2 separate regions of the Homo sapiens genome follow, and region 2 is linked to region 1. The links come from fine-mapping of genetic effects on gene expression. Tissue or cell type: gastroesophageal junction. Region 1 holds a variant in brackets; the other region holds the start of a gene. All regions are shown on one strand. Distances are between the middles of the regions.

Region 1 (2,912 bases):
CCCCCCGCTGATGTGAAGGGTGGCCGGCCCCTTGGGACCACCATCTGGAAGGTGTCTCTTTTTTCCCTTAGTGGAGTGACATTTATATACACTTAATATATATAAATTTGTATACATTTAATTTTTTTTTTTTTTAAGACAGGGTCTCGCTCTGTTGCCCAGGCTGGAGTGCAGTGGCGCGATCTCGGCTCACTGCAACCTCCACCTTTAGGGTTCAAGCAGTTCTCATGCCTCAGCCTCCCGAGTAGCTGGGATTATAGACGCGTGCCACCATACCCAGATAATTTTTGTGTTTTTAGTGAAACGAGGTTTTGCCATGTTGGCCAGGCTGCTCTTGAATTCCTGACCTCAAGTGATCCACCTACCTTGGCCTCGTAAAGTGCTGGGATTACAGGCGTGAGCCACCGCACCCGGCCTACATTTAATTTTTTAATTTTAGAGATGATTTCTAGTTTATTCACTCTAAGATCACTTAATGGATATCTACTGTGTGCCAACAATTTTGCCTTTATGTTCTTTAAAATTGGCCCCAACTCAACAGATGGCCTCAGCTGTAGGGTGGGCTGGCAGTGTGTTAGCTCAGGAGACTTACAGAGTTTCCAAGCTCCTTGAGTGGCTGTGCTACATGTTTGTGTGTCATTCTAAATCCATTTGGTTTTTTAAAACGGTTTTCAAAAGTTAAATTCTAGCTTTTTTTTGTTTTAGGAGATAAAGTCCCTCCAATTAAACCAAACGCTGGGGAAGAATCTGTCATGAATCTTGACAAATTGAGATTTGCTGATGGAAGCATAAGAACATCGGAACTGCGACTCAGCATGCAGAAGGTAAGAGCCTGGACTCGCTCTGGAGTGAGCAGGAGGGCTGCATACCTGGCCCTGCACTGGTTTTGTTTTTTAAAAACTAGATCTAGGGGGATGCAGGTGCAGTTTTGTGTGGATGTACTGGGAGGTGGTGGAGTCTGGGCTTTTCATGTACCCGTCACACAAGTCGTGTGTGTTGTACCCAGTAGGTAATTGTTCAACCCCACCCCTCCCGCTTTTTGGAGCTCCCAGTCTCTGCTACTCCACTCCATGTGTCCATGTGTACTCACCATTCAGCTTCCACTTCCAAGTGAGAATGTGTGACACTTGACCTTCTGAGTCACTTCACTTAGGATAGTGACCTCCTGTTCCATCCGTGTGGCTGCAGAAGACATGATTGCGTTCTTTTTTTATGGCCGAGTAGTATTTCATGGTATATATGTACCACATTTTCTTCATCTGGTCATCCGTTGATGGGCACTTAGGTTGATTCCATGACTTTGCTGTTGTGACTAGTGCTGCGATAAATACATAAGGCTGCACCAGTATCTGGAGGTAAAC[A/G]GCGGTAGGACGTACTCCTCACCGTATCAAGAATATGAAAGAGACCAGGAGGCCTGAACTATACAGAAGTGCACTTCTTTTCCACATAGAAGGTCGGCAGACTAGGGCAGAATTAGTGACTGCTTGGCATCCAGGACAGCCTTCTGTGGTTCACTCGTGTGTGCTTGGGTGTGACCTCCGTGACCTGACCATTGCTGGCTGTCATGGATGAGTCACAGCGTGGAGGAGAGGGAACTGCAGGACCGCTGGAGAAGCTCAGTCCCCAGCAGGGCAGCTTTCTCTTAGAGGTTTCCTGGAGTTCAACACAACACTGGTGCTTACATCTCAGGCCCGGATATCGATCATGTCATCATGCCTGGCTTCCAGCAGCTCGGAAATGTCTTTAAGCTGGACTTGTTGCTGCCTCTAAATATACTCGGAAGAGAGGGAGAGTGGGCGGCAGGTGGAAACTGATCTGTGGCCTGTGCTGCTGGGAGTCGGTCCAGTAGGACCATCTGTGATGATGGAAATGTTCCGAGTGTTTGCCATCCAGTATGGCAGCCATTAGCCATGGGGCCGTGGAGAACCTGATACATGGTCAGTCTAAGAAACTGAATTCCTCTAATAACAAGGATTCTTGTCCATGAATGAGATCTCTTGCCTACTATTTGCAAGAATTTCTGTGTATTTTCTAAAAAGTCCATTGCTTTAGTCCTATTCTGAAATAGGTGTCTAACACCTATGTGGTGTTAGACACAGGAGAACAGGTTCCCTGCTGACATTTTCAGAGGCCTGTGCCCTTCAGTCTTCAAGTGAAGCTGGGCTTCAGGGAGGCTTTGTGGAATGGTGAGAAGAACAGTGTGACTAAGGCACAGAAGGCTGAGTGATGCCCTGCAGTACTATTGTAGGGTTGGAGGCCAGCTGGGAAAGAAAGAACCATTGCATTAGAGAATGGGAACATGCCTTCGGATATAGAAATGGCAAATCCATGAGATAGTTTAAAGTGAGAATACTAGAAGCATTCCCACCAAACATGGTGTGTCTTGGTGCCTGCTGTATCCCAGGCTCCACGAGATGCTGGAGTCAGCACTGAACAAACAGAGTTTCCTCTGCTCGTGGAAATGCGTTCCGTTGGGGAAGGGATTTTTCTGCTGAGTCTGGCTATTCATAGTAAGAAGCAAAAAAAAGAAATGAGGTAAATTTTTGGGAACAGGCCCCCAAATGTGGCCCAAAACTGACCATAAACAAAATCTCTGCAGCACTGTGACATGCTCTTGATGGCCATGACGCCCACGCTAGAAGGCTGTTGGTTTACCAGAATGAGGGCAAGGGACACCTGGCCCACCCAGGGTGGAAAACCGCTTAAGGCATTCTTAAACCACAAACAATAGCATGAGCGATCTGTGCCTTAAGGACATGTTCCTGCTGCAGATAACTAGCCAGAGCCCATACCTTTGTTTCCCGTAAGGAATACTTTTAGTAAATCTTATGACTGGCTTGCTCTCAATAAATATGTGGGTAAATCTCTGTTCAAGGCTCTCAACTCTGAAGGCTGTGAGACCCCTGATTTCC
Region 2 (2,912 bases), 150 kb before region 1:
AGCACCGTGGGCAGTACTGTCACGAGGACGGGCTGGGAGGAGGGTGTGGCAGGGGTGTTGGGGGCCTCAGGTAGGGGCCAGCACAGAGGGACACCCAGATACCCAGCACAGAGGGCAGGAACAGGTCAGCTCCCTGCCTGGGCTCAGGGATGGGGCTGGAGGTTCTAGGAAGCAGAGCAAGTAAGCAGGACAGGGAACAGTGAGAACACAGGTGTAGATGGAGAATCAAGGCGGGGCGCAGCCAGGGATTCCAGGGAGGAGTAGACAGAAACTCAAGGGAGGGAGGCCTCGAGGGGATCCCAGGGAGGTGTGGACAGGGATTCTAGGAAGGAGTAGACAGAGACTCAAGGAGGCCTCGACGGAGATCCCAGGGAGACTGACTGCCTGCTGCATAGGAGGGAGGCTCCCAGCTGTGTCCCTGAGCTGCATAGGAGGGAGGCTCCCAGCTGTGTCCCTGAGCTTCATCCACTCTGTAACCTGTGACAAAACGGAGCATTATCTGTCAATGAGCACATCTGTGCCGCAGTTTTTGGGATGGTGCCAGGGTAGGGGTGAGGGACAAGTTGAGGGGACAGGTTGAGGTGGGGTCCCTGTGAGGCCCTCCTGGACGGAGTGGACCTTATGAGACACTCCCTAGCTGAATTCCCAGCAGGAAGCTGGTGCCCAGAGCACCCTGGACTAACGGGCGGGAGAGGGACTTTGTTTTGGGAGGCTCTTTGTAGATCAAGGCATTAAAATTGCACCTTTGGGGAAAGCATGTTCCAGAGCACCAGACACCCCGAGGCACCCTGAGTTGTGGGGGGGGAGGGTGATGGAATTTGGGGCCCTCGCTGAAGCCCTTCATTATCCAAGCCAGGCGCGGGGTGGCACGTAGTTCCCACAGCGGCCCCTGGACGGAGGAGAGGGCCTGGGCCGTCCACACCTGCAGAAATCTGGAGCTGGTCCGCCTAGACCAGGGGAAATCGGGGTCCCGTCCGGGTACACTGGCAGAACTCAGGGGTCAGATCCTCTGCCCTGGAGCATTCAGATTTGTGCCTCTACGTTATGGAAACCAGGGGCCCGTCCGGGTGCAACGTGGCATCCACAAAATGGCAGGTCCCCGAGCTCCGGGCTCCGAGAGAACAAAAGCAGAAGCCACTGCCGCCCGCGCTCGGGGAGGAGCCGCCCAGGTGGGCGCGTCCGGGGCTAGGCGGGAGCTGCGCAGCCGGGTCCAGGGGAGACGCCCCGCCCCGGCCGGACCCTCGGAGCCTCCTAGGGGAGACCCCGGCCCCGCCCCTCTCTCGCCCGGATCGGGCGGGGCCCCGGGAACGCGCGCGGCGAAGGCGGCCTCGGCCCAGTGCACAGCGGGACCAGGCAGAGTTCGGGGAAAGCGTCGGAGTTCGGGAGACCAGGGTCCAGCATGGGTTTCAGCACAGCAGACGGCGGGGGCGGCCCAGGCGCCCGGGTAAGAGGGGGCACGGGGACTGCGGCGGGTGGGGGCGCGAGCGGACGCGGGAGTAGGGGCGGGTGGGGGCGCGGGGGTAGGGGCGGGGTGGGGGGGGGCGCCGGAGTAGGGGCGGGTGGGGGCGCGGGGGTAGGGGTGGGGTGGGGGCGCGAGCGGACGCGGGAGTAGGGGCGGGTGGGGGCGCCGGGGTAGGGGCGGGTGGGGGCGCGGGGGTAGGGGCGGGGTGAAGGCGCGAGCATCAAGGCGGGCGGGCGCGGGGACTGGGGTGGGAGGGGGCGCGGGTACCCAGACGTGCTGGGGGTCCTGGCGTGGGTCCTGGGACCTGCCGGCGGCTGCTGCGGGAACGGGAGGGAGCTTCTTCAGGCACCCTTTTCCTTGTAACCTCGTGAATACTCGGGAGAAGAAATAACGCTTTCTGGACAGATTTGCCCTCTCGGTGCCTGAAGGGGAGCCAGGGGAGGGGAGTCTGAAATCTCATCGCCAAAACTGAGAGTTGCTAAGTTACTCTTCAGCTCAAACCGGTGGGACAGAACAGTGATCTGTGGTGGCCCGGAACAAAGAGAATTTTTACTTAAAAATACCAAGATTGACTTTTGTGTTGGAGTGCTAGTTGATTTGAGTAAGAAACATTTGCTAGTAAAACAAGACAGTTATTTCAGCTTTGGTGAAAGAGTGATAAAGCTGTTTTCAGGTTTTTCATGTGAGTTGCAAAAAGTATATTGGGTTTGCCTTTCCCTGTTTCGTGTGAAACTAAAGAGTGGTTGAGGTGAGGTAATTACACTCTACTCCTGTTACCCAACAGCACTTTTGCCTAAAAAGTTTAGTTGGTACGTCTAGGTGTCTAATTAAGAATTGAAACATATAATTTAAAAATTAAGTTAAATGTCATTGAAACGGTGCATAATTGATACTTTTGACTGAGCCTTAGGCAGCTGGGTGGGTCCTGAATCAAGATTCCTGGGAAGGTAGGTTTCTCAGCTTCCCGAAGAGATTTAATGTAAATCTTCATGTAATGTGGACAAAGGTGAGTTTTAGCTTTCAATTTCCCTGAGCCTGCCTCGAATTCACAAAATTCCAGGCTCTCTGGGTCAGAAGGAACTTCGGAGATCTTGAGGAGGCCGCCGTCTCCGAGATTCTGTGATATATTCAGCATTTCCATTCCCTATGGGATCACAACCCACTGGGAAGCAGTGTTTGGTGACCCCCCCACCGAGAAGTGGGTTCATATTCCTGCTTCTGAGGAGATACCAGGTTTTTATTTCACTGTGCGGCATCCGGTGTGCAAATGCAGATGTGGCCTGGGCTGGGAGCACACAGGCTTGACCCCGCAGGCAGCCGGTAGGCCAGGGTGTCAGGTCCCCTGTGTTAGCCGGAGCCTTCTCATCTTTTATCCTGGTAGAGGGGCGCTGCTGGCCTTTCTGGGGGGTGGGTCTAGTCTGAAATCACCTTTGTGGGATCTGTGGCACTG

Which allele goes with the higher level. Positions count from the first base shown, and alleles are read on the strand shown. Sizes are in standard deviations (SD) of each study's normalised expression.
For the expression in gastroesophageal junction of the gene that starts at base 1,336 in region 2, G is the high allele of the variant in region 1 and A is the other (large effect, 0.89 SD a copy in GTEx).

What was found. PIP is the estimated chance that this variant, and not a neighbour inherited with it, causes the effect.
Region 2: PLEKHG4B starts here. The variant in region 1 is the best candidate, but not a certain one, in a credible set for the expression of PLEKHG4B in gastroesophageal junction (GTEx, PIP 0.81).

What each region holds. Positions count from the first base shown.
Region 1 is chr5:239,653-242,564 of GRCh38, forward strand. SDHA (succinate dehydrogenase complex flavoprotein subunit A) reads left to right here. Exons shown (of 15, transcript NM_004168.4): 11 at 706-824. Among named protein-coding and RNA genes, the nearest start is that of SDHA, 23 kb to the left of the region's middle. The variant A/G (reference allele first, on the strand shown) is at 1,362.
Region 2 is chr5:90,833-93,744 of GRCh38, forward strand. PLEKHG4B (pleckstrin homology and RhoGEF domain containing G4B) reads left to right here and starts at 1,336. Exons shown (of 20, transcript NM_052909.5): 1 at 1,336-1,444. The coding sequence starts at 1,400. RefSeq lists an enhancer at 1-375.